Homo sapiens: one gene and its partners. The protein of the gene in region 3 interacts with the protein of the main gene of each other region in a pairwise test. Each region holds a gene or a part of one and is shown on either strand. Other genes may lie near its edges.

Region 1 (10,955 bases), on a different chromosome or scaffold from region 3:
TTTGACAGAGTCATACAAAGAACAAACAGAAAGAAAAGAAAAATTTCTGAAAATTGTAAGCCAGACAACTTGCAGAGCTTACACAGAACTGGGAAACATTTTAGTCTCCACCAGACAAAGTGAGGAAATCTTGGGGCACTGAATACATGAGGCATTCAGTAAAGAACCCAGAGTTCATTGCTTAATAGTGGGGCTGCACTAACCTTCCTAGAGACCTGCCTTTGTAAACCTTCAAGAGGAACCTTACATAGAACAAGCTAATCCACAAGTAACTTAACTGTCAGAAACTAATCCAAATTCTATGAAACAATGGAAATTACAATGGCCAGCATGCAAACAAAAATCAATAGATACAAAAGTTAATTTATTTCCTAGATATCAGCAAAGAACAACTGAAATTTAATTGTTTAAGAAAAACTAAATATACTATTTAAAATAGCATACCAAAAACCCTTATGTATAAATCTAACAAAACTGGAGAAATATTCTATGTTCATAAGTTTGAAAACTCAATATTGTTAAGATGTCAGTTCTTCTGAACTCGATCTATAGCTTCAACACAAAATCACAGCAAGCTATTCTGTACAAGTCAACAACTGAATCTAAAAAGTATTTTGAAAAGCATATGACCAACAAGAGCCAACACAATTTTGAAGAACAAGAACAAAGTTGGAAGATTCACACTACACTATTTCAAGATTAGTATAAACCTACAGTAATGAACAGAGTGTGATACTGGTTTCAAAAAAACCAGACATATAGAACTGAATAGAGAGCACAGAAATGGACATATGCAAATAAAGTCAGGTGGTTTCTAATAAAGACAATTTAAAAAATAATGGACAGTATTTTCAAAAAATGGTGCTGGAACAAGTGGATGTCCATATGGGGAGCAAAAAGAACCTAGCCACAGACCTTATATAAAACATAAAAATTAACAGAAAATGGCTTATAAATATATACATATGTAAAAACTTCCAAAAATAACATAGGAGAAAAACTAGACGCCCTTGGATTTGGAGAAGAGTTTTTTTGTTCAATACCAAAAGCATAATCCATGAAAGAAAAAAAAAGTTGTTGGATTTTATTAATAGTTTTGTTTTGCAATGGACACTGCTACAATAAAAAATAAGTCACACACTGAGAGAAAATATTCGCAAATCACCCATCTCTCAAAGACTTGTATCCAAAATATACACAGAACTCTTAAAAATCATGAATTTAAAAATGAAAAGATCTGAACAGACACCCAAAGAATATATACAGATGGCAAATAAGTATATGAAACAATGCTCAATATCATTTATTACAGAATTGCACATCTAAACAATGAGATACCACTATGCACCTATTACAGTAGTTAAAATCCAAAACACTAACAACATCGACACTGATGAAAATGTGCAACAGGAACTCTCATTCTATGCCAGTGGAAATGAAAAATACTAGGCCACTCTAAAAGATGGTTTGGCAGTTTCTTACAATGCTGAGTAGTCTTATCACATGATTCAGCAAACCCACTCCTAGATATCTACCCACTGATATAAAAATTCATACCTACACAAAAATCTGCACACCAATGTTTATTCATAATCACCCAAACCTGGAAGCAATCAAGATGTCTTTCAATAGGCAAATAAACAAAATGTGGAACATACATATAATGGGACATCATCCAGCAATAAAAAGAAATTACAGCTACAGAAAAAAACATAGATAGATATTAAATATATTGTTAAGTGACACAAGCCAGTCTGAAAAGGCTACACACTGTACGATTCTAATTATTTGACATTGTGGAAAGGCAAAACTATGGAGATGGTAAACAGATCAGTGGTTGCCAAGGGTTTGAGGAGTGGGAAGGGTTGAATAGACAAAAGACAGAGGAGTTTCTAGGGAGGTGAAACTAGTCGAAATGAGACTATCATAATGAATACATGACACTGTGCATCATCAAAATCCACAGAACTTTATATTACAAAGAATATATTTCCCATATATATACATAATTAATATAAATGTATATTTCTTTGTTTTGCCAGCTAAGAAGGCCTACAAGCAACAATATCCCAGAAGGAAGAGGCACACTCACTGCCCAGATCTTGATTTCTAATATCATTCTACAATAAAATCAAACAGAGCTCCTTGGAGAAATGTCCAATTTTAGCGTGGAGGAAGGAGACATAAAAGATGATCTCAGAGCACCTTGTAGTGCCAGAAAGTAAGGAAGTGCTCAAAAACAAACTAAAAATCACACACACAAAGATGGGGGGATGTCAAAGAGACACAAAAGAGAAGTCACTGAAAGAGTACTCAATGGCCAAACCTGAAATAAACTGAACAAGAAAATAAAGTAGTAAGATATTTAAACCAAAGTATAAAATAATATCCGTGAATTCCTATATATATAAATAATTGAATAGGTAAATAAATGAGGGAGAAGAGACAAATCCTCCATATAAATACATTCCAGAAAATTAATGTAGATATTCTGCCCTCAAGCAGGCAGAACATAACTTCTCACTTTTTAAACGTGAGCACTGCACAGTGACTTCTTCTGAAAGACTACAGTATGGAAATATGGGGAAAACACAACTTTTACAGCAGAGAAAACTAACAAATATGACTTCAACTACATGATCAAAGTCATCACAAACGGTAGTAAGTCATGTTAATAGTATAGATCCTTGATATGATGTAATAAGGAAGGCACTTTACTTTGATGGTCTTCCCAAAAACCCATAATCCAAGTCTAATGATGAGAAAGAAACACCAGAAAAATCCCAATTGAGCAACTTTCTGCAAAATACCTGATGAATACTATTCAAAACTTTTAAGGTCATTGCAGAAATACATAAAGTCTGAGAAACTATCACAGTCATAATAAATGTAATGTGGTCATATAGATAAGGTATTGGAAGAGAAAAAGTATGTTAAGTAAAAATAATGAAATATGAATGAAATCTGGATCCTAGTTAATAATCATGTATCAATATTGGTTCCTTAATTATCACAAGTGTCATACTAATATAAAATATTAACAACAGAGGAAACTGGGTAAGGAGTATATAAGAACACTCTGTACCGTCTTTGCAACTTTTCTGTAAATCTAAAATTATTCTGAACAGTTTATTCTTAAAAATACATGTAATATAATTTATCATACCTTAAAATAATCCACAAATAAAGCTCAGCTATGGTTACTCAAAAAGGCATGGAAAGAAGTAGTCAAATACTATCAATAACTGTTAGAAAAATTAGTCAATAGAAACCACACCCAAATATGACATATATAAGGAAACGAGAAGATAAGGACACTGGCTATATCTTCAACATGGTCACGAATTTAAAGAAAAACATAAGCTAAATGAGAACAAAAGAAAAAGATGCACAAGAATACTGAATGGAACTTCTACAGATGAGAAATACAGTATCTGAAAATAAAATTTCACTGGATGGGATTCATAGCAGATTAGACCTAGAAGAAAGCCTCAATCTTCTTATTTATATAACAGAGAAATGAATATCTGCCTTGCAGTGTTGTTGTGAGGACAAAGGGTAATTTAATTGAAAGCACCTAAGAAGTAATTAGCCCATGATAAAAAAAAAAAACCTCCGTTTCTGTTCTGTGCTCTATTCATTCAACCAATATTTACTGAGCAGCTACTATGTATCAACTACAATTGCAGGATATAAAAGAATGAATAAAATACACATAGTCCCTACACTCATAGAGTTTACAATCTGGTAGGAGACAAAAACCAATAAATACACAAATAAATGTTGTACATGATATTTTTGTTTTAAACTGTAGCATGCATTGTTAGCTGCCTACCTAAAATCTACTCTACTCATTCTTCTTGGTAATCACTACCCTAATTTTTTTCAGGGAAGGAATGTGCTGGCCTAAATAAAGCACTTTCCCAGTGATATGGTTTGGATTTTTGTCCCCACCCAAATCTCATCTCCGAACAGTAATCCCCAATGTTGAAGGAGGGGCCTGGTGAGAGACGATTGAATCACGGGGGCAGACTTCCTCCTTGCTGTTCTTGTGAAAGTGCATTCTCATGAGATCTGGTTGTTTAAAAGTGTGTAGCACTTCCCCCTTCTCTCTATTCCTCCTGCTCCAGCCATGTAGGACGTGCCTGCTTCCCCTCTGCCTTCTGCCATGTTTGTAAGTTTCCTGGACCTCCCAAGCCATGCTTCCTGTACAGCCTGGAGAATCATAAGTCAATTAAGCTTCTTTTCTATATAAATCACTCAGTCTTAGGTCATTCTTTATAGTAATGCAAGAACTGACTAATACAGAAAACTGGTTCTGGGAAGAGGTGCATTACTATAAAGATACCTGAAAATGTGGAAGCAGCTTTAGAACTGGGTGTTGGGCAGAGGTTGGGACAGTTTGGAGGACTCAGAGGAAGCAGGAGGATGAAGGAAAGTTTGGAACTTCCTGGAGACTCGTTGAATGGTTGTGACCAAGATGCTGATACTGATATGGACAGTGAAGTCCAGGCTGAGGTGGTCTCAGCTAGAGATAAGGAACTTACTGGGAACTACAGTAGTCACTCATGTTGTGCTTTAGCAAAGAGACTGGCAGCATTGTGCTCCTGCTCTAGAGATTTGTGGAAATCTGAACTTGAGAAAGATGATTTAGGGTATCTGGTGGAAGAAATTTCTAAGCAGCAAAGCATTCAAGGTGTGGTCTGGCTGCTTCTAACAGCATATGCTCATATTTATGAGCAAAGAGATTATCTGAAACTGGAACTTATACTTAAAAGGGAAGCAGAGCATAAAAGCTTGGAAAATTTGCAGCCTTGCCATGTGGTAGAAAAGAAAAACCCATTTTTAGGGAGGAATTCAAGCCAGCTGTAGAAACTTGCATAAGTAAAGAGGAGTTGTATATTAATAGCTAACACAATGTAGAAAAGGCCTGGAAGGCATTTCAGAGACCTCCATAGCAGCCCCTCTCACCACAAGCCTGGAGGCCTAGGAGGGAAAAATAGTTTCACAGGCCCAGGGCCTCACTACCCTGTACAACCTCAGGACACTGCTCCCTGAATCCTAGCTTCTCCACCTCCAGCCTTGGTTAAAAGGGTCCCAAATATGTCTCAGTCCACTGCTCCAGAGGGTGCAAGCCATAATCCTTGGAAGTTTCCATGTGATGTTAAGCCAGCTAGTGCACAGAGGGCAAGAGTTTAGGCTTGGGAGCCTCCACCTAGATTTCAGAGGATATTTGGAAACACCTAGATATCCAGGCAGAAGTCTGCTGCAGCAGCAGAGCCCTCAGTGAGAACCTCTACTAAGGCAGTGCACAGGGGAAATGTTGAGTTGGAGCCCCCAAACAGAGTTCCCACTGGGGCACTGCCTACTGGAGCTATGAAAAGAAGGCCACTGTCCTCTAGACACCACAATGGTAGATTCATCAACAGCTTGCACCGTGGGCCTGGAAAAGCCACAGACACTCAATACCAGCTCATGAAAGCAGCCATGGGGGCTGTACCCTGCAAAGCCACAGGGGCAGAGATGCCCATGGCCTTGAAAGCCCACCCCTCACATCAATGTTACCTGGGTGTGAGACATGGAGTCAAAAGAGATTATTTTGCAACTTTAAGATTTTATGGCTGCTCTGCTAGGTTTTGGACTTGTGTGGGGCCTATAACCCCTTTGTTTTGACTAACGTCTCCCTTTTGGAATGGGAGTACTTAGCCAATGTCTGTACCCCCATTGTATCTTGGAAGTAATTAAGTGGTTTTGATTTTACAGGCTCCTAGCCAAAAGGGACTTGCCTTGTCTCAGATGAGACTTTGGACTGTGAACTTCTGAGTTAATGCTGAAATAAGCTGAGACTTTGGGGGACCGTTGAGAAGGAAAGATTGTATTTTACAGTGTGAGAAGGACAGGAGATTTGGGAGGGGCTGGAAGTGGAATGATATGGTTTAGATTTGTGTCCCTGCCCAAATCTCATGTCTGAATTATAATTCCTAATGTTGGAGGAAGGGCCTGGTGGAAGGTGATTAAATCATGGGGGTGGACTTCCCCCTTGCTATTCTCATGATGATAGTGAGTAGGTTCTCATGGGATCTAGTTGTTTAAAAGTGTGTAGCACTTCCCCATCTTTCTCTCTTCCTCCTGCTCCAGCCATGCAGATCGTCCCTGCTTCCCCTTCATCTTCTGCCATATTTGTTCGTTTCCTGAGGTCTCCCCAGCCATGTTTCCTGTACAGCTTGTGAAACCATGAGCCAATTAAACCTCTTCTCATTATAAATTACCCAATCTCAGCTACTTCTTTATAGCAATGCAAGAACTGACTAATACACCCAGTCTCTTCTGCAGCAGAGGTAGTCAAACACAATAGTTCTGGCCAATTCTAAACATAAAACAAAGTGGGAGTGTGGAGGTATTCTGGTGAACATTTGCTTCCTAGATTATGGGGAATACCTAAGGATGATTCTTCCACTCTTCCTTCTTCTCCCTTATTCCACTAAATGCACATGTGATGAACAGAGCTGCAGCAGCCATCTTGTTGCCTTAAGGGAAAAGCCAAGAGAATACAGTGTGACACTGCACGTGACATCCAATTTAGGCATATAGTCCTGAGCTTCTTGTGGGAAAGCCTAGCTTGACAGAGTCAATTATCTTGAGAAAATAAAGCCAAGACCTGAGAAAAGCAAATCTGAGAACAAGAGAGTGAGAGCTAGAAAGCAAGTGAGGAGAGAGAGGCTGTACTCCATGCTTCTTTCAGTTTGGTTACATGAATTGATTTTTTTAAAATTATTTTTAGACTGGTTCACATTCAGTTTCTGTTACTTGCAATTAAAGAGTCCAATCCAGCATAGTTAATGTGATTTTTAGCCTGTAATAAGTGATATAAGAAAAAGGAACAGATGTTACGAGAAAGAATCAGTAGGTAGTTAGGGAGGTCTTCTAGAAAAGCAACATGAAAGAGGAAACCTAACAAATAAACGCATGTCAGCCTGGAGAGGAGTTGAAAGAAAGGTTTCCCACCTGCCTCCTTCAACCCCTTCCCATCACCAACATGGAATAAGCATGCTCTAAACACAGCAGGGAAAGGGTTTCCTGGAAAGGACCCTAGTGTGGGTATAGGAGCTGGAGATTGGGTGAAACAAATCCTGTGATGTCTACAGACCCACACGACAGACCTAGAGGTAAAAAAAAAAAGGAAACTCCATTCAACAATAAAATATACTAAATTATCCCACCTCATGATCAAGTTCTTTTTACTTTGCCAATGATAACGATCTTAAGCCTGCTGGCTCCCCAGCCACACACCCTGAGCGGAATTTTATCCTTAACAAAATCTGCCAAATTACACAGTATTCCATGGAGTGTTCTCCCATTTAGAGGAGGTTTTCAATAAACCTAACAACTTCAACAGAAAACCACCACAGCTACCCCTACTGATCAGCATATCCTTCATTCATAAAAATGAATGGATATCCAAGGACTACCAGATACTGGAGAAAAATCAATAGAATAAAAAAGCCATCCTGAAAAAACAATTGACTACAGAGCACATGTATGTTTATAGCAGCAAAATTGACAATTGCAAAGATATGGAACCAACCTAAGTGCCCAATGACTAATGAGAACACAGGAAAACAAAACCAAACACCACATGTTCTCACTCATAAGTGGGAGTTGAACATAGAGAACACATGGACACAGAGAGGGGAACATCACACACCAAGGCCTGTTGGTGGGTGGGGGTTGAGGGGAGGGAACTTAGAGGATGAGTCAATACGTGCAGCAAACCACCATGGCACATGTATAATACTTATGTAACAAAACTGCACATTCTGCACATATATGTCATTTTTTAGAAGAAATTTTTTTAATGAACAACAAAAAAAAGAGAAAGAAATCATAGAAAATTTCCCTGAGTTGAAGGAAACAATTCCTGGAATTTAAAGAGCCAACCAAGTGCCAAGTGATAAAACAGACTGCTAACAGGAATGGGCTTAGTTTCACATTAGAATTATCAGCCACAGCTGATAATTATCAGCTAGAAATTACTGAGGCAAAGTCTTCAAAGGAAAAATTATTTTAAGACCAGAATACTGTACCAAATGATCAATCAAGTGGGAAAGCCAAATAAAGACATTTTAGGAATTTGAGGGCTCAGATATTTTCTCTCTGATTTTACCATTTCTTGAAAATTTTCCAAAGAAATGATTAAGGTTTTTAAGAAAGAGGAAGATATACCATTTAAAACAGTGCAACTAACATAGGAGTTCGATTGTTTTCTTTAAAGTCTCAGGTTTACAGCTAAGACTTGTGTGTGTGTGTGTGTGTGTGTGTGTGTGTGTGTGCGCGCCAAAGTAAGGAAGGGAGAGGAATGTGTAAGTAAGCTATTTTTCTTATCCTCTCATATAGGGGTAACTTCCTGCATAATAGGATTATGAGAATGAACTTTCTATGTAACAGAAAGTCAACGGTCAATATTTTATATAAAACTGATACATATATCAGAAACACACACACACATATATATATATATATATATATCAGAAAGCCATATATTAGTGAAAAGTGAAAATTAGAACAGGAATCCTAATTCTTCAAGGAAAAAATTCTATTTCCAAGAAATAAGCAATATGCATTCATCAAGTAGTGCAATTAAGCTAGGACATTGTGAGAACTGGTTTAACTCTTCTGTTAAAAAAATTAATAACAAATTTTTAAATAAGTTGTAGAAGAACATTACAGTCCAAATATGAAGTAAAACAAATTCTAGTACCATTTTAAGTAAAATCTGAACATGATTTATAGTGAAGAAAAGAGAATTTTTCCTTGCAGTGGTACAGTTTTCATGTCACAAAATTTTATTTCCTTGTTTACGAGTCTAATTGCACAACGTGGTTTCCCAATAATCATAGTAAAAAATAATAACTAGCCCTTATTTAACATTTACCATATGTCCTCTTGTAAGTTCTTAATATATATCCTATTCTACAAAATACAGTTCATTTATTAGGCAGCTTGGTCCTTTCATTGTGAGCTGAGGTGACACGCCTCAAATCCCACACTGGTTGGTGAGCCCAGGCAATCTGGCTCCAGAATCCTTGCTCTTAAACACTTGGCTACCCTGCTTCTCATAAAGCTCTCTGTTAATTTACGATGTTTAGAATCAGTCTATTTACCTTAAACAAGAAGGCACTGTAACAATTAGAAAATAGAATATAAATTATATAAAACTTGATAATGTAAAAGTCATAATAAACCAAAGTGAGACAGGAAGAAATTGTAATATTTTTCTTATCCTCTCTTATAGGAGTAACTTCCTAGAAAGTCAACAGTCAATTTTTAATACAAAACTGAAAATAATTCCTGCTTGGATAGTAAAGAAAAATATTTATCAAAAAAACTGAAAATAATAGTAAAAAAAAATCAGCAGGGAAGACAGAGAGTGAACTTGAGCTAAATTCCTCATATTTCATAACAAGTGTGATGGTTAATTTTATGAGCATCCAGTAGGTGTCAATATCTATTGCCTAATTTTAACTTTTAAAATTATATATAACTTATATGGTAACTATTAGAAAAATTAAAAACAAAAGTTTGTGGTACCTTAAGAAATAGCAACATAAGCAAACTATTAACGGCATAGGGAGGACTATCAGAAAAGCTAAATAACTAGGGAAAGGGAAGATCTTTGTTTCACACCATTTCCATTTTTATTACAATTATCAGATATTATTTTAAAAAATAATTCTACAATACTATGAAAAATAGTAATACTCTGTAAAGAAAGGATAAACTGAAGAGGGTATCTTTCAATTCTGTCATGGTAAAATAACAGACCAATAAATGCTACCAGACCATAAGCCCAGTGAGGTAGAGAAGGAGAACAAGGATAATATATAAACACATTCCACTCTAATCTTCTTTACTGATTCTTTGTTTCTACATCATTACAGGCTAAATGGCCCATTTTTTTTTTCATATAAACTTCTAAAGAGACATTCATTTCATTGACTTCAACTATTGAGTCACACCCACTCCAGTCTACAACCTTGCACATTTCCTTTAAAGAAAGGAGCTGTCTCAATTCAGACACTGTTGGCGGGAGCCGACATTAGATAATCACCCTTTTAGGGCATAATTTAGCAGTCTTTAATGAAGTGTTAAAAAAAATGACTGCATTTTGACCTAATAATTTCACTTCTTTGAATCCACTCTGCAGAAACACTCCCGAATGTTCAAAGATATCTGTAAAAGGAATTTCAATTAAGCCACTACTGTTTACGACAGAGGAAAACTGAAAAGAACCTAAATGCACATTGGTAGATGCAGAATAATTTGTTGCCATTTAAAATATACATCTACATGTAAAATACATATCTACGTGTAGTGACAGTGAAAGATGTCCCTAACATATTGTTAGGCAAGAAAAGCAAAAATTCAGAATTACTATACAATTTTTGTAAAAAAAAAAAGTATATGCATATATCACATACATAAATGTGTACAAGCAGTGTGCTTAAGATGTGTGGAGGAAACACTGTAAGTTTTCACTATGTACATTTCTTTATTATTATTTTACAACCAGCATGTATTGTTTTAGTATTTTAAGAAATCAGGTCATGTCTCAATTGTCATATATCTGGGATTAAAAAAGAAAAAAAAATCCAAAAAGGGAAATATTCAACGTTTTTCCATTAGTTCATTCTCAATATCTATGAAAAAAATCTAAGTAGCACATTGCTGTCTAGGATTAGCGAAAACGCTAGTTTCGTTGGTTGGATCGTTTTGGGTTTTTTTTAGTGAATTAGAGCAGGAAAATGAGGACACAAAACCCAACCAAGGCGGAGTTGGGCTGTTGAAGCCATCAGCGGCGCGCGGCCGGGCAGCCAAGGGACCCGCGAAGGGGGGGACTCGGAGGTCGAGGGGCACTCGGAGGGCGAAGGGAGCCCCGGGCGGGAGACGAAGGGCAC
Region 2 (7,000 bases), on a different chromosome or scaffold from region 3:
ATCCTCTCTAACAGTGACATTTATGGTGCCCTACTGGGACAGCAGGAGGGGAAGGGGGCTCCCTGATCCATCTCCAGTTACCCTGTGAGACTGACCCGCGCAGCCTCCGTATGCAGCTGGCATTTGCTTCTGCAGGTGGGACAAGGGAAAGAACCCAGTCTGGAAGACACCTCCACTTCGGTAGGGCCACAGCTAGCCCATTCAATTTCACACAACTCAGAAAATGACATCCCTTCCCCCTGGATAGCATAGCTTGACGAATGGAGCCTAGGTAGAATTTCAGCTTCCTCTGCCCACCCTCCTTGTGCAGTGCCCAACCTTCCCAGTGTTACATGGCAGCCCTGCAGCTTCCTGTGGTGGAGAAAATGCCAGCAGGAGGGAAGGGTGTTCCCTTTGATTTCAACTCTCCCATTCAAGGGCTCCTTTAAGTGACAAGGAAGGAAAGGTCAGGGTGGGGTGGGGTGGGCAGAGACCAAGGCGGGGCTGGGGATGTGGGGGACAGAGGGCAGACCTGGAATCATTTCAAGTCCTTCTGTGCAAACACTCGTGTGTGCTGTGGGCCCACATTATTTACTCAGGCAGTGCCAACAGCTCGCTCTGCCCCTGGGCCCCACCCTGCCTGGTGCCCATGCCCTACCCGCTAGGTGGCTCCACCCCTGGGGACCCCCCCCCGCAGCCCCCCACCCCTCCTTCATCACCCCCTGCCTGCCTCCTGCCCCGTCCACATCCCCAGAGCCCCCATGCCTGCCACGTTAGGACAGTCTCTGCCAACACCCTGGGCGCCATGCCAGGGAGACAGAAGCTTTTCCAAGAAGCAGAACTCGCTTCCCTTGTGGCCCTCCTGTTTGCTTGGCCTCAGCCACAGGTAGGACAGGAGGCAGCTGCTGTGTTTCAGGCATGGTTGTGTGGGGTCGGTGGGGATGAATGGGCAGGGCAGGTGGCAGCTTTTGCCAGGAAGGCATATAATGACACATCCTTGACACATTTGCTGAGTGCATGTGAAGCCCTCACATCCATCCCCTTGCCAGGAGAAAGGCAGCACAGGCCTTACTCTCTCTTTTTTTGAGATAAGGTCTCGCTCTGTCGAGTGCAGGGGCATGATCATGGCTCACTGCAGCCTCGACCTCCTGGGCTCAAGTGATCCTCCTGTTTCAACCTCCCAAGTAGCTGGGACTACAGGTGTGTGCCATCATGCCTGGCTAATTTTTAAAATCTGTTGTAGAGACATGGTCTCACTATGTTGCCCAGGCTGGTCTCGAACTCCTGGGCTCAAGTGATCCCCCTGCTTCAGCCTCCCAAACTGCTGGGATTATAGGCACAAGCTACCTCATCTGGCCCAGGTCTTATTCTCATCCCTACTTTGCTAATGGGGAAGTCAAGGTGCAGAGAGGTAAATCCCCAAATCCAGGTCTTTTGACTCCTGGCTCGGGCTCCTTCACCCTCTATACCCCACATTCCAGCTTGACCTTGCCCTATACCTAAATGCCAAGGAATCTACTCCCCACCAAGCCTCGGTCCTAGCTCCAACACTTCCCTGATGAAAAATAAGTTAATGGTTAACTGTGTGGTTGGAGGAAAGGTTCGACTCTCTGCAGATCAGGGGTGGTGGGGAATGCTCCGTCCCCAAGGCAGCCCAGGCCTAGAGTAGGGGGGCTTGGCTTACTGGTCAGGCAGCCAGGGCTGGTGTGCCCAACCTGCAACTAGGCGTCTCAAGGTTCTGGGCTGGCCTCAGGAGGGAAGAAGAGAGAACGGCACTGTGAGCCCCTGGCAGTGAGCACCAGTGCCACGCCCAGGCTTTCACCCACATCACCCGCTTTCCTACCCACAGCCAGGGTGACGTGGACTCCAGAGCCCTGCTTTATAGATGCGGACAGTGAGGCTCAGGGAGGCTGTGCAGCTTGTCCAGGGTTCTTCCTGGCCAGGTGTGGGTTCTGCTCACTGGACCACATTCTCTCTGAGGTGCATGCTCTGGCCAGTCCCATCTTCCTAGGGGATCTGCCCACCTCCTGACTGGGCTCCTTGATGCTCTAAAGTCTGTCCCCACCTCTTGGCTCTTCATTCCACCCCACTGTTCATATCCCTGCAGCACCCTTTCATCAGACACCCCTGTGCTCAAGAATCTCCCATGGCTCCCCATTGCCCCATCCCAGTGGCTGGTGCCTACCTCTGAGTCTACCTCCTACCTGGCCCAGATAATCAGAGCTGGAAGGGGCCATATATTATGTGATTGTTTCATAGAATGGGAACAATGAAGCCCAGAGTGGGGAAGGGATTCATGTGCTTATTAGCAGCAGGGTCCGGACCAGAACCAGGGATTGACATAGTGACCACAAATCCAAGCTCTAATGAGAATGGCATTTCATACCTGCCCCTGTGCTGTGGGCACAACATGGCTATTTTCTAAGATGCCCTTTCCTTCTCATCACAATTCATCCCAAAGCCCTCCTGCCCCAGCGAGCCCTCCCTAATAGCTCCCTCCTGCGACTTCCTAGGCTCGCCTCATCTGTGCCATGCAATTCAGCCCAGGATTAAATCCATCAGTGATGGTCCACCCATGGGGACACATGTGCACTGGAAAAGCTCAGGCTCAAAGAGTGGCAGGGAGGTGCCCACAGTCACACAGCACAGCCAGGGCCAGACCAGAGGCCTCCTGACACTCAGGCCACTGCTCCGTAGGCCAAGGGTCCTGGGACGTGCCAGGTGTCTGCCATGTCCAGGGTCCTCAGATGGCAGGACCCAGCGTTCCTGCAGCCTTGGCCTGCCAGTCCCACGGGCTGCCGTCTCCTGAGCGATGCCTCCAGCTCCCAAACCTCGAGTTGATCTCTTCTGGATTAAGCCACATGTCTGGATTAAGGCTCAGCGTGTCCTGGCTCCCTCCTGCTCCAGAGGCCCCAGATCCCACTCCAGACAAAGAAAGTTTGGTAACAGCTGGTGGAGGCCAAGGCCCAGAGACAGGAGCAGAATGGTGGGGTGGCGGCCAGGGGGATTAGCCACCTTGGGCCCCTTCTCTCAGCGCCTTCCATTCCCCCAGGAAGGAAGATTAAGGAAAGTGAGCAGAGGGACCCAAAAGGAGAGATTTAGTGCAGCTTTTCCTGCCACTACCCTGCCTACTCTCACCCCTCGGGGCTAGAAATGTGCCCCTTGAACCCTTTGCCTCCCAGGTTTTCACTCCCACACCCCAACTGGCATCAGCAAAAGATGCCCTCCCTGACAGCTCCCGAACCACAGTTTCCGGGAATGGAGTCACCTGGGAGGCGTTTGCTAAGGACCCAGGTCGCTGTGCGGGTTGGAGCCTGTCTTCCATATCCTGCTTGGTCCCGGCTCTCAGGCCCTACCTCCTGGGGAGATGGTGGTGTGGGGTAAATGTATCCTCACCCCTACCTCAATCCTGAGACCCAATGCCAGCCCGCCCAGAGCCCAAGACCCCAGCTTTAGTCCCCATTGAGAAGAGCACTGAGGGAGTGACAGAGATGGCCACTCTGGCCCTGCTGCTCAGCCCCCAGCCGGCCTCACTGCAGGAGGAAGAGGTCTGATGGGGAACAGACCTCCTCTGGCTTTCCCATGTGGCCTACTGAGCTGTCTGTCAGCCCCTCCCTCCATCCATCCAAGTCCCTGGGTCCCCTTAAATGGGCTGGAGTCAGGGGCTGTGGAGGTGAGGCCAGGTCTTGGCCAGGAGCCATGCAGAGTGGGCAGGGGCCACATGGGCCTGCCCTGGTCAGCACCTTGGAGAAAAGCTGGGCTACCCAGGCCTCAGGAAGTCCCAGCCAAAGCCATGACCAGGCCCAGCCGCAGTAGCATGTCTGGCTTCTCCAAACACCCTGACCCCTGCCCTGCCCCATCCCCTTGGGGCCCCAGCCTCTCTCTTGCCCTGCTGTTCCTCCCACCCCTTCTCTGCTCCTCCAACCCTTCCACAGGGAGGACCTTGCTGCAACCTCACCCTTCAAACTGCTCTTCAAACTAGCTGGACCCAAGAGAAGTGCCAGACCCCTTCCTTACGGCCCTCCATTCACTGCCCAGAGCACCACTTCTGCCCGCTGGACAGACCACCCCGCTGCCCAGGAAGGGGGCCCAGGCTGCCACCTCGGGCCAGCAGCTCCTGCCCTCTCTCAAGCACCCCATTGTGGCCATCTCCAAGCACCTGCTTCCCCAGGGTCTCCAAGGGCAGAAGAAGAGAGCAGGGAGGTGACTGAGTGAGAGAGATCTTGCTGTCTTGGACTCAGCATGAGTAGACGAGGTGGGTTTCTTCTAGATCTCCGGGCTTTCCCCACCTCCTCTGGGCACAAAACTGTCCAGGCCAACTGTCCCCCTAACAACTTCTTCAGGAGCCCTGATCTGTGTGAGTTTCACCTTGGGGAGCCAGCTAGTGGGCCCAGGAGCTGGGGTCTGTTGGGGGAAGTACAGGGGAGTGGGTGAGGCTTTGTGGGGCGGGAGGCAGGTGGAAGCTGGGGGCGGGGCCACGTAGCAGGAAGACGGGGCACTGGAAGCCAAAGTGGAGCGCCAGGGGAACCCAGTGGTTTTTCTCTTCCCACAGTTCCCACGGGCAGCAGGAACACATTGCATCAGTGAAGCCTCCTCTGTGCCCTGCTGCATGGGCAGCCTGGGTGTCCACACACACCCTCACTGGCACTACTTCCAGCGCTTTCTGGGACAGGAGGAAGGTCAAACTGAATAAACTGCTTTGCCGGGCCCTCCCAGCTGGGGCAGCCAGCATTATTCCCACTTGACGGACAAGGGCGCTGTGACCTGCTACGGGGCACCTGTCCATGCGTGAGTGAGCAGGGACTCGAACTCAAGACTCGGCTCCACCCTCCTTTCTGCTGGTGCTGGCAGACCCGGCATCTTCTAGCTCCTAAGGTTGCCCCTGTTGACCATCCCCTTTGCCTCTGCTCAGGCCACCTGCCAACCCAGCCCCACAGCAGTTGCCTTAGTGGGGTGTGGGTAGCACAGGTGCCCGCAGCCTGGAGGTACAGAGGCCCACCGCAGCCCCAAGTGGACCATCGTGGCTGAGTTTACTCCAAAAGGGGATGTGGACTGGAAAGAACGAAGACCTCCACTTCAGGAGGTGCAGGTGACACCCTGCCCTGTTCCCTCCATAGGAGAGACCCTGGGTGAGTCCCTGGTCCCTCCAGCCCTCAGTCTCCTGCTCTGTAGGCCAGGTCATCTCTGAGGACTTTGTTAGCCCTGGCACTGCCTGGATTTTACGATCCATGACCCTCATCTTGCCATCAGCCTGGCTTTGGGGACTTAAAGAAGGATGGTGGGGACGCAGAGGTGGACACCTGGGGCTCCCTTGTAAGCAAAGGCATACTCCATTTACAGCTGACACTTTTGGCAGGATGAGGGGTGTGGCTGTCCCTGGAGTTGATGTCTGGAGGCTCTGAAAGACTCAGCCCACCCTTCTGAAGAAGCAGAGCCAGCTTCAGGCTGTCCTGCACCTCACCAGCTGCCCATCAGGCCTGGCTCCCACCCCAGCAGCAGTGCCTCCCCGCCTCCTCCAGCCAGCAGGGACCCCAGCCCAGACAAACCTGGGGCTTGCAGTGAGTCATGCTGACGGGGCGGGGACAGAACCCAGTTTCCCACCATAGCAACTACAATTCCGCTCAACCTTCAGGGCTTTCCAGAAATTGCCATTCACGTCTTCCTTCAGCCCTGGTTGAGCCCATGTGTATATAAATACATTTCACTTCTCAGTGCCCCCGTCAGGCCTCTTAGCCACACCAAGGCTGCCATACCCCCACCACCTGCACATCCCCGCTTTGCCATGATGCAGCCCGGGTCACATGGCTGCCCCTCTCTGGCACAGTCTCGTCCTCACCCCCAAATCGCCGGTACACTCCTTGAAGGGCCGGCCACAGTACCTTCCCTCTTCCCTACCCTCCTCCAGCCCCGCATACGCCGTACCTCCCAGCTTGCCACAGGACAGGGGTCGTGAGGTTTCCTGGGTCTCTTGCTCCCCACAGCCCTGCCCAGCAGGGTCGTTGAGGGCATGAGAACACACGGATGTCACCGGAGCTCTGCTGCTCCTGCCTGAGGCCCCTTGGCCGATCCTCTTGGCCTCAGCCTCTTCAGCAGTGAAACAGGGACTCATAAAGACAGCTGTGTGTCTGGATTTTGAAGTCACCAGGCAGGACAGCGATGTGAGAAGGCTTCACTGTCTCCCGAGAGGTGTGTGTCCACAGTGGTGACTGCTGTCTCCATCTGCCGTGTTTCTGCGGCCCCTCCAGACCCAGCACAGGCCAGGGAAGGCAGAGGCCCTCCACACACCTGGTTGTTGGTCTGTAAAATCTTGATGGGCTGAAGGGAAAAAACATTCCTGCGCCCTGATCCTCAGGCCCTGGAGCACACCTCCAGGCTTGGAGAGGGGTGTTAGGACAAAGTGAAGGACTCCAACATCACAGATGAGAAAAGTCCAGAAAGAACTGTCCTGACAGGCTAAGAACAGAAATTGCTTCAAACAAGGTTGAGATGGGTGGGAGTGGGTTATTAAGGGGTTATCAGGACCGGTTCCCACCTGTGAAGTGTCAGCAGAGACACATCCCCCTTTTGTCCTGGCACAGAGGGTAGGGTGGGGCAGGAGGAGCTAGGTCCCAGCAGCCCTCAAAGCAACTTGCTACCCCAGGAGCAGAGAGGCCTGGGCCTTGCCCCGCAACCAGTCTCAGGCGCTGGAGCCCCGGGCTGGGCAGTCCCTCCAGCCACGTCTCCCCTGTGCCAGAGCTAGAGGGAGAAGGAGGGGGGTCTTTATCCTGGTGGTGCGCCGTCATAATCCTGGGGAGGTCCCGGTCCCATCCGACCCCCAGCAGAGTCACACTAAGGTCCCTGGCTGGGGAGGAAGGATGAGCCTCTCCCTCCCCAAGTCTGGAGGCCCCTTTCTACCCACCCCCAACCCCGGCTGCTGAGAGGTGGGAGAGCAGAATCTGGCAGGGGGCACCTCCCAGGCTGAAAACATGCAAACTAGCCAGGAGAAGGAGCTTGGCATTAAATGTCAGGAAGAGCCCAGGGC
Region 3 (10,955 bases):
AGTCTCAGTCTCTTTTCAGAGCTCTTGTCGTAACTAGCCCACGGATGCCTGAAATTTAACAGATCCAGAATCAAATGTAGCAATTTCTCCACTCTGCACCAAGGTCCTCCTTTTGCTGACTCCTGTATGAATGGCATCACCACTCAAATCTCAAAAATGGCCTTCCCAGAGTTCTCATTTCCCCTCATCGAATTACTTATTAACTACACCTCAATAATGTGATTCTCAAAATTCATCCCTTTCCATTCCTATGGCTACTACCCTAATTCAAAATCCCCATTAAGTTATAACCACACTGTGCCTAACTTTTATCCCTACCTCCAGTGTCTCCAGGTTCCAATATTCACTGTCTCTCCTGTTCACTGCTTTACCTTCAGTGCCTGGCATGTTTGTTAGACAGTAGGTGTTCGACAAATTTTTGTAGCATGAAGACCATCACAGCATTTATCTCACCCTCATAGATAACTGTGACCCTATGTTCCTTCCTCTGCTCCTCCCATGACATGAGGAACGAGACCATTTTTATGGCAGTGAGGAGGAAAGCGCTGGCCCACAGTGGGATCAAACCTAAGAACCATGGCCTACCAACTATACATTAAAAATATGTGCCATTTTAGTTTCACATTTCTACTTCCTAAAAACTGGGCAGGGGGTTTTCTGGTAGCGGATCAGCCTTTATAAAAGGTCTCACTAGTATTAGAACTTCACCAAAACTGATTTTAATAACAATCCCTTACATGGCTCTAGGAGAGAAGACATCTAAATTTCAAGCTAATATTAATTCAATTTCCCTAATACTGCAGTCTGGACTGGCTATACTAGAAGTCACCCAGATCTAGAACCTCTTTATCCAGCAGCTGGTTCTAGTATTATGGCGCTTCTAAGACAAGCAGGATTTGTTTTACTCAGCTGTTTAATCAGAATGCCTCCAAATTTACAAAGCAAATGTTTTAATGTCCAAGGCTAATACACCACTGCAAGGGAAGAACAGGTAGGAAAGGAAAGGGGCACTAAGAGAGGAACACACCGTAAGAGGGCTTGGCTACTGCATAGCACATCCTCAAGACTATCTCAGTGACCACTTTTAAACATCATTAAAACCTGTTTTGGAAAGGTACACAATTTGATCTATCCCCACAGACAACCAGTCCCCTAAGCCTAGGGTGTCAACAAGAAAATTCTATATAAATGACTTCTAGCCTTCAGCTAATTTACAAGCTAGGGCACCCAAACATATTAATGAAGCTGATTTTCATGTCAGATGGTTTCCAGAGAATTAACACAGTTCTCTCAGCATGTAAGAGGGCAGCAAAACCATGAAACCAATACAGCACTTAATTTTCTGCTTATTAATGCAAACACATGAAACAAATACCTAATTTCAGTTCAAACTCATTTCCCTTTTATTAAAGTCCAAGTTACCATTACATGGCTTGGTACTCAATAAAGGAAAACTTGTTCAAATAAGGTAATATGTTATCATCAGTATTTCCAGGTAACTGTTCACACTCAAGTAGCAATGTCAATAAATCCTTGGGGAAGCCCATCTGTAAGAGAAAACACAAAGAATTAGCCAGGAAAGAATAAAGAAAAAGTAGAAATCTTTTAAAAATAACCCTTAGTGCTACAACCAGGGAAATCACTGTCTCTCTGTACCCTTTACTGCTCTTACTTAATCCTGCCTACTGTCAACCCACAAGCGACTAGCTTTGTGGCTTTTTTGTTGTTTATACACTGGTACTTCCTTCCCAATCAGAAAAGTGTCCAGTAGCTGCCATTTAACAAAAGAAATTTTTTTTGGGCCGGACACGGTGACTCATGCCTGTAACGCTAGCCCTTTGGAAAGCCGAGGCGAATGGATTGCCTGAGCATAGAAGTTCAAGACCACCCTGGGCAACACGGTGAAACCCCGTCTCCACTAAAATACAAAAAATTAGCCTGGTGTGGTGGCCCATGCCTGCAGTCCCAGCTACTCGGGAGGCTAAGGCACGAGAATCTCTTCAACCGGGAGGCGGAGGTTGGAGTGGGCCGAGATCGCTTCATTGCACTTCAGCATGGATGACAGAGCAAGACTCTGTCTCCCAACAAAAAAAAGAAAAAAAGAAAAAAAGTTAGTATAGCTAGAATATATCCTACATAAAAAAGATCTTCTGGACCCCTTGGAATAATACTTGATAAAATGAAAACTAAAACCATCTTTTAGGAGTTCATTATAGAATATGAACCACAGGGCTGGGCGCGGTGGCTCACGCCTGTAATCCCAGCACTTTGGGAGGCCGAGGCAGGCAGATCGCGAAGTCAGGAGATTTGAGACCATCCTGGCTAACACGGTGAAACCCCGTCTCTACTAAAAATACAAAAAATTAGCCGGGCATGGTGGCGGGTGCCTGTAGTCCCAGCTACTCGGGAGGCTGAGGCAGAAGAATGGCGTGAACCTGGAAAACGGAGCTTGCAGTGAGCCGAGATCATGCCACTGCACTCCAGCCTGGGTGACAGAGCCAGACTCCGTCTCAAAAAAAAAAAAAAAAAAAGAAAAAGAATATCAATCACAGGGCCAGACGCGGTGGCTCACACCTGTAAGCCCAGCACTTTGGGAGGCTGAGGCGGGTGGATCACCTGAGGTCAGGAGTTCAAGACCAGCCTGGCCAACATGGCGAAACCCGGTCTCTACTAAAAATACAAAAATGAACCGGGCATGGTGGTGGGCACTTGTAATCCCAGCTACTAGGGAGGCTGAGGCATGAGAATTGTTTGAACCCAACAGGCAGAGGTTACAGTGAGCAGAGGTCGTGCCACTGTACTCCAGCCTGGGCGACAGAGTGAGACTCCGTCTCAAAACAACAACAAAAAACAAACAAGAGCTTCAAAAGTATAACTAGGAAAATTTCCATTCTGAACAACTAGTTTTCTTTAAGTACTCACAGAAGTCAAAACCATTGCATATATTATAAAGATGAGCTACTTCAGGGAGGTTGTGCTGGTGAGGGGGTGGACAAAGATAAAATGAAAAGACCATTGCTTTTGGCTCACACCTGAAACCCAAATAATTTGGAAGGCCAAGGTGGAAGGATCACTTGAGCCCAGGAGTTCAAGAACAGCCTGGGCAACATAGTGAGACTCTGTCTCTATAACAAAATTAAAAATAAATAAATTAAACAAAAACAAACAAAAAGACCACTCCGTTAAAGCAAGCTTTAAAACGAGATCCCACCTGGGCGTGGTGGCTCATGCCTGTAATCCCAGCACTTTGGGAGGCTGAGGCGGGTGGATCACCTGAAATCAGGAGTTCAAGACCAGCCTGGCCAACATGGTGAAACCGTCTCTACTAAAAATACAAAAATTAGCCGGGCATGGTGGTGCATGCCTGTAATCTCAGCTACTTAGGAGGCTGAGGTACAAGAATCGGCTTGAACCCGGGAGGCGGAAGTTCAGTGAGCCGAGATCATGCCATTGCACTCCAGCCTAGGTGACAGAGTGAGACTCCGTCTCAAAAAAAAAAAAAAAAATCTTAAAAGTAGATTACAAAGTTTTCAGCATTTTCTGTTCAGTTTCTCAACAGGAAGACTGAATATAAAAATTCCTTGAATTCTGAATATTTTTCTTTCTATGTATGTATGTATTTAATTAACTAAAGGAGACAGGGTCTCACTATGTTGCTCAAGCCAGTCTCAAACTCCTGATACTCCTGAACTCAAGCAATCCTTCCACCTTAGCCTCCCAAAGTGCTGAGCTTACAGGCATGAGCCATTGCTGCCAGCCAAGTTGAGTCTTTTTTTTTTTTTTTTTTTGAGACAGAGTCTCACTCTGTCACCCAGGCTGGAGTACAGTGACACAGTCTCGGCTCACTGCAACCTCTGCCTCCTGGGTTCAAGTGATTCTCCCGCCTCAGCCTCCCGAGTAGCTGGGACTACAGGCACATGCCACCACACCCAGCTAATTTTTGTATTTTTAGTAGAGACAAGGTTTCACCATGCTGGTCTCGAACTCCTGACCTTGTGATCCACCCGCCTCGGCCTCCCAAAGTCCTGGGATTACAGGCGTGAGCCACTGTGCCCAGCCCAAATAGAAATACTTTAAACACACCAAAGCAAATGTGGCAACAATAAAAGTATCTGAAAATCTGGATATGTGTACACAGACTCACTATATTATCATCTATGCTACTGTTTATGCCTAGAATATTGTATGAAGATTTTTCTTTAATTAAGGTGGCTTTTATTTGTCTTTCTACCAGTAAGAAAATAATGATGCCGGGCGCGGTGGCTCAAGCCTGTAATCCCAGCACTTTGGGAGGCCAAGGCAGGTGGATCATGAGGTCAGGGGTTTGAGACCAGCCTGGCCGACAGGATGAAATCCCGTCTTTACTAAAAATACAAAAATTAGCCAGTTGTGGTGGCATGTGGCCTGTAGTCCCAGCTACTTGGGAGGCTGAGGCTTGAATCCAGGATGCGGAGGCTGCAGCGAGCCTAGATTGCACCACTGCACTCCAGCCTGGGCAACAGAATAAGACTCCATCTCAAAAAAAAAAAGACGAAAGAAAGAAAAGAAGGAAAGAAAGAAAATAATGACAACAACTAGAAATCATTTCAGTTCTTTAAATTTACCATTACTGGTATTCTCAAAATCTCTTCATGCTCACGGCCATTACCTCTAACAAGAACACTGAAAGGTCTTACTATAGCACACTGAAATGTCATCCACCCACACCTCTCTGGATTGTTTTCCTGCCTTCTTCAGTGGTTTGTCGCTTACCCATGCGGTTTACACTTTGTCAAGGCCCAGTTCCTCCGGAGTGGAGATTCCCAGTTCATTTAAAGTTGGTCTAAGTTCCTGGATGACATAGGGGTAGATTTCCTTATGAGGTCCTGCTTTGTCCTGATGGCAAAGAGAATATTCACATTTAACTCTCTCAAAAGCCATGTCTATTAATTCATGAAATGAACTTAAAAATGCCTTTAATTACTTATGCAGAGGCAGGTAGGACAGAATAATACAGGTGATCAGCTGGGCATGGTGGCTCACACCTGTAATCCCAGCACTTTGGGAGGCTGAGGCGGGCGGATCACTTGAGGTCAGGAGTTCGAGACCAGCCTGGACAACATGGTGAAATCCCGTCTCTACTAAAAATACAAAAATCAGCCAGGTGTAGTGGCACATGCCTGTAATCTCAGCTACTCGGGAGGCTGAGGCAGGAGAATCGGCTTGAACCCGGGAAGCGGAGGTTGCAGTGAGCCAAGATCACGCCACTGCACTCCAGCCTGGGTGACAGAACAAGATTCTATCTCAAAAAACGAAACAAAACAAAACAAAACAGGTCATCTACTTTTAAGTTAACACATTTGTTCGGTAAGTAGGGCAACTTGCTGGGTGCCGTGGCTCATGCCTGTAATTCCAGCACTTTGGGAGGCCAAGGCGGGTGGATCACAAGGTCAGGAGTTCGAGACCATCCTGACCAACATGGTGAAACCCCGTCTCTACTAAAAATACAAAAATTTGCTGGGTGTGGTGGCACGCCCCTGTAATCCCAGCTACTCGGGAATGCTTGAACTAGGGAGGCGGAGGTTGCAGTGAGCTGAGATCATGACACTACACTCCAGCCTAGGGGACAGAGCGAGACTCTGTCTCAAAAAAATAATAATAATTAAATAAAAATAAAGAGGGCAACTTATATATGTACTGTTCAAGGTAGGCTTTTGAAATACCTTGAGAATAACTGCAATTGGACTAAATCCAGAACATCTTAAAGTCTAGAATTACTGGAAAAGAAGGTAGTGATGACAGAATTTTGTGAAGGCAATTAGACATGCCCAGCAGGCAACACGAATAATTAAGTTAACGGGAAAAGTTTTTTCATTTGCCTCCAATTTGAGACCTTAACTGAATTAACTACCAGTGCTGAATGGATTGATAGCCTACAGAACCCTTAATTATCTTACCCATTATAGATAAAGTAATGTCACACTTTTGCTGTTAACGGACCTTAAGTTTCTTTCTTACAGACCACAGTATCTTTTCATGGAGAGCTGTACTTTGAGAATACATATGTCCAGGGCTGGAGACTTTTCACTGTAATATATAGTTACACCTGTGCTGTCACAAGGTTCCTTAGGAACGAATAAGAAGTCAAAAGAACTAAGAAAGTGCCGGCCGGGCGTGGTGGCTCACGCCTGTAATCCCAGCACTTTGGGAGGCTGAGGCGGGCGGATCAACTGAGGTCAGGAGTTTGAGATCAGCCTGACCAACATGGAGAAACCCCGTCTCTTAAAATACAAAATTAGCCTGTAATCCCAGCTACTCGGGAGGCTGAGGCAGAAGAATTGCTTGAACCCAGGAGACCTCGGAGGTTGCAGTGAGCTGAGATCACGCAATGATTGCACTCCAGCTTGGGCGACAGAGTGAGACTCTGTCTCGAAAAAATAAATAAACTCAGAAATTATGACCAAATAAGAAGGAGGAAAATTAGTATATATCCTCCTATGTTTTCATATAATGTATATATATATTTTTTGAGATGGAGTTTCTCTCTCTTGTTGCCCAGGCTGGAGTGCAATGGTGCCATCTTGGCTCACTGTAACCTCTGCCTCCCGGGTTCAAGCAATTCCCCTGCCTCAGCCTCCCGACTAGCTGGGATTACAGGCATGCACCCCCACGCCCGGCTAATTTTTTATTTTCAGTAGAGATGGGGTTTCTCCATCTTGGTCAGGCTGGTCTCGAACTCTTGACCTCAGGTGATCCACCTGCCTCAGTCTCCCAAAGTGCTGGGATTACAGGCGTGAGCCACCGTGCCCAGCCGACACAAATATGTTTAAAGTCAAACACATTTCTACAGTATCAACAGTTGTGTAGTATAACCAGTTCTGGGAAGCTCCCTCTTAAGAATTCCTAACATTTCGTATGACAAATAGCAAGAAGATGAATACACTTTGTAGTTAAATCTTTATATATCCTTTATTATTTCCTTGATAAATTCCTTTCTTTTTTTTTTTAGAGACGGAGTTTCTCTCTTGTTGCCCAGGCTGGAGTGCAATGGTGCGATCTCAGCTCACTGCTACCTCCGCCTCCCGGGTTCAAGCAATTCTCCTGCCTGGGCCTCCCAAGTAGCTGGGATTACAGGCATGTGCCACCATGCCCAGCTAATTTTTTTTTTTTTTTTTTTTTTTTTGAGACAGAGTCTTGCTCTGTCACCCAGGCTGGAGTGCAGTGGCGCTGTCTTGGCTCACTGCAAGCTTTGCCTCCCGGGTTCACGCCATTCTCCCGCCTCAGCCTCCTGAGTAGCTGGGACTACAGGCGCCTGCCACCACACCCGGCTAATTTTTTTGTATTTTTAGTAGAGACAGGGTTTCACCGTGTTAGCCAGGATGGTTTCGATCTCCTGACCTCGTGATCCGCCCGCCTCGGCCTCCCAAAGAGCTGGGATTACAGGCGTGAGCCACCGCGCCTGGCCTAATTTTTATATTTTTAGTAGAGACAGGGTTTCACCATGTTGGCCAGGCTGGTCTCAAACTCCTGACATTGCATGATCCACCCGCCTTAGCCTCCTAAAGTGCTGGGATTACAGGCATGAGCCATCACACACGGCCAAGATAAATTCTTAAAAAAGAAAGAAAAAAAAAAAAGAGAGAAAAAAGAAAAAAGATAAATTCTTAAATGGAATTGCTGAACAAAAGTGTATCATGTACAATTTGTAAGGCCTTGAATAAATGCTGCCAAAGTAGCCTCTAGAAAGATTTTAACTGCAATGTACATTCCTTCTAGTTATATAAGGACTCATTTTAGGCATTTTAACAAATTCAAAAATACAGAATATTCTGATACCTCAGCAATAGCCCACTCATTTACAGAACAATTTTAGCATTATTATTTCACTGACCTTAACAACCTCTAGGATACGAACTGTACTAGCAAAATCATTTAACCGTCTGCATGCCCGCAAAGCAGCATCAATGATTTTGGGCTCTGGAACCATATCATAGGTAACAAGTGTGTTTATCCCTGCAAAATTAAAAAGAAGGGCCATGTCAACCTCGAAGAGCCTCACTTAAACTATGAGTTATTTATATTTTTACTGAATCACTGATGTATGATCTTATCTGTCTGGGTCTCCATTCTCTTACCTATAAAATGAGAGAAACCTACCTTTAACAAATTCTAGATAATAAGATCACAGTGGATCTCCCTTAGTGAATCAGTGGAAAGAAAGAACTATGCAACAGCACGCAGATTGAAGGAAAAAATCCTGAGTTTTTTTTTTCCCCTTTGAGAACAAGAGGGTCATTTTCAACTCCTAACTTTTTTTTTGGAGATGGAGTCTTGCTCTGTCACCCAGGCTGGAGTACAGTGGTGCCACCTCAGCTTACTGCAACCGCTGCCACCTGGGTTCAAGTGATTCTCCTGCCTCAGCCTACCAAGTAGCTGGGATTACAGGCGGGTGCCACCAAGCCCAGCTAATTTTAGTATTTTTAGTAGAGACGGGGTTTCAGCATCTTGGCCTGGCTGGCCTTGAACTCCTGACCTCGTGATCCACCTGCCTCGGCCTCCCAAAGTGCTGGGATTACAGGCATGAGCCACCACATCCGGCCCTCCTATCTTTAACTCTTAGTACAATGAACACATTTTGGATGCTTTAAAAGAGATTCAAGGCTGGGCTCAGGTGGATCACCTGAGGTCAGGGGTTCAAGACCAGCCTGGTCAACATGGAGAAACCCTGTCTCTATTAAAGATACAAAATTGGCCGGGCGTGGTGGCACATGCCTGTAATTCCAGCTACTCTCGAGGCTGAGGCAGGAGAATCACTTGAACCCAGGTGGTGGAGGTTGCAGTGAGCTGAGATCGCGCCATTGCACTCTAGCCTGGGCAATAAGAGAGAAACTCCATCTCAAACAAAACAAAACAAACAAACAAAAAAACCAAAATAAAAGAGATTCAACTGGAAAACAGCCTAAAAACAGCCAGAGAAATGCGTAGAGTTAATGAAGCCTAAATGAGGACATTAAGGAGATATTATAGAGAAACATTAGTACACAGACTCATAAACATTCAACCAGAAAATGATTGGGCATGATTACTTTCAGATCTGCACAAAATGACACATAATAAAATTTAAGATTCTCTTAATGGGAATACATAATTGTTCTTTTTATTACTTCTACTCCAGATTGTTCAGTAAGAATTCTATTGGTTGTAGCAAAAGGGAATCATTACATTTCTGCAGAGAAGTTTAAAGCACTTAGGTTTCTTGCTTTTATTACTTTAAAATATTTAAACAAAGGATACCAGTGAATACGATAGTCATTGAGATTGAATTTTTGGTATGAGATAAATTACCCTACACCTAATTCTATTTTTTCATGTTAAGTGTGCATCTGCAAATTTAGGAAAGACAAGTTCTAACTTACTTAGATACTTATTCATGGCAAAACAATGCAAAAATAACAAAAAACCCAAACCATCACCCAAAGGGGAAGGGAACCAAATGACTGCTTTGTGTAAATTCTTTTTTTTTTTTCTGAGACAGAGTCTCACTCTGTTGCCCAGGCTGGAGTGCAGTGGCGCGATCTCGGCTCACTGCAAGCTCTGCCTCCCGGGTTCACGCCATTCTCCTGCCTCAGCCTCCCGAGTAGCTGTGACTACAGGCGCCCGCCACCACGTCCGGCTAATTTTTTTGTATTTTTAGTAGAGACGGGGTTTCACCATGTTAGCCAGAATGGTCTTGATCTCCTGACCTCGTGATCCGCCCACCCTGGCCTCCTAAAGTGCTGGGATTACAGGCGTGAGCCACCGCGCCCGTGCTATGTAAATTGTTTGAAATGTACAAAACTGTTACCTTTTGCTCATCTAGCCTTATTGCTATAGCAGTGGTTTTCAATTAAGGGTGACTTCATCCCTCAGGAGACACTGGGTAATGCCTAGAAACATTTTTGGTTGTCATGATACGAATGTGTGCATACTGGCTCCTAGCAGGTAGAGGCCAAAGGTGATGCTAAACACCCTACAGTGTAAAGGACAGTCCCCTACAACAAAGAATTATCTGGCCCAAAATGTCAATAGTGCCTGCCTTAAAATCCTGCTTTATAGGTAGCCATAAACTTTCCTAACTGCAAGTTGCATGAAGTAACCAGTTTAAACAACGCATGTTTTCGAAACAGTTGCTCTCAATAAAGGAGCAGAAGCAGTTCATATTTACACACCAAAATAGACAAATATGTTTATGTTCCAATTACCTTTACGCAATTCCCAGGCATCTATATCTGGCTTGTTGAAGTATGTTACCCAGCGAGCATCAAACTCCTCATCTGTCTCCTGTGACCCATGGGAATAGCAGCGAACTGACTGGATAGCTATAATGTGAAAGAACCATAACTTCAATGTACACAAATAGTACTTGATATATTTTGTTCAATGCATTAAATTTTGAGTTGACTATATATGTTGTGGCAGCAAAAATATTGAACAGGTCAAATGAAATACATCGTATACATTGATACAGAAAGATATATTTTAAATTAAGCAAATAAAATCAAGTAGAACAAAAAGTATTACATAGGCATGTTTATACTTTTCTCCCTAATGTATAATACTCGCTTGAAATTATTAACAGTGGTTCCCTCTGATTTTAAATTAACAGTGATTATCATGGGACGTAAAAACTACTTTATATACTTCCATATTGTTTGAATTTTTACACATAACCAGAGTATTAATTCCTAAGTAAAAATGTCCCAGGTGGGCATAGTGGGGCACACACCTGTAGTGCCAGCTACTCAGAGGCTGAGGCAGGAAGATTACCCGAGCCCAGGAGTTCAAGGTCGTAGGGTGCTAACAATATGACAGAACCTGATAAGATAGCCATTGCATTCCAGCCTGGGCAACACAGCGACACCCCACTTCTAAAAACTAAGAATAGGCCAGGCGCAGTGGCTCACGCCTGTAATCCCAGCACTTTGGGAGGCCGAGGC

What was found.
Region 1: the proteins of COX5A (region 3) and EPM2A interact in a two-hybrid assay, tested with the Homo sapiens proteins (one study listed by BioGRID).
Region 2: the proteins of COX5A (region 3) and SPDEF interact in binary tests that used the Homo sapiens proteins (3 or more experiments, as listed by UniProt).

What each region holds. Positions count from the first base shown.
Region 1 is NC_000006.12:145,723,908-145,734,862, forward strand, and holds part of EPM2A (laforin), read right to left. Parts: intron 1-10,955. UniProt on the Homo sapiens protein: Plays an important role in preventing glycogen hyperphosphorylation and the formation of insoluble aggregates, via its activity as glycogen phosphatase, and by promoting the ubiquitination of proteins involved in glycogen metabolism via its interaction with the E3 ubiquitin ligase NHLRC1/malin.
Region 2 is NC_000006.12:34,546,330-34,553,329, forward strand, and holds part of SPDEF (SAM pointed domain-containing Ets transcription factor), read right to left. Parts: exon of another isoform or gene 6,089-7,000; coding exon of another isoform or gene 5,902-6,088; intron 1-5,901. UniProt on the Homo sapiens protein: May function as an androgen-independent transactivator of the prostate-specific antigen (PSA) promoter. Binds to 5'-GGAT-3' DNA sequences. May play a role in the regulation of the prostate gland and/or prostate cancer development.
Region 3 is NC_000015.10:74,918,896-74,929,850, forward strand, and holds the end of COX5A (cytochrome c oxidase subunit 5A, mitochondrial precursor), read right to left. Parts: intron 10,338-10,955; coding exon 10,221-10,337; intron 7,993-10,220; coding exon 7,871-7,992; intron 4,876-7,870; coding exon 4,762-4,875; 3' UTR 4,753-4,761; intron 1,548-4,752; 3' UTR 896-1,547; downstream 1-895. UniProt on the Homo sapiens protein: Component of the cytochrome c oxidase, the last enzyme in the mitochondrial electron transport chain which drives oxidative phosphorylation.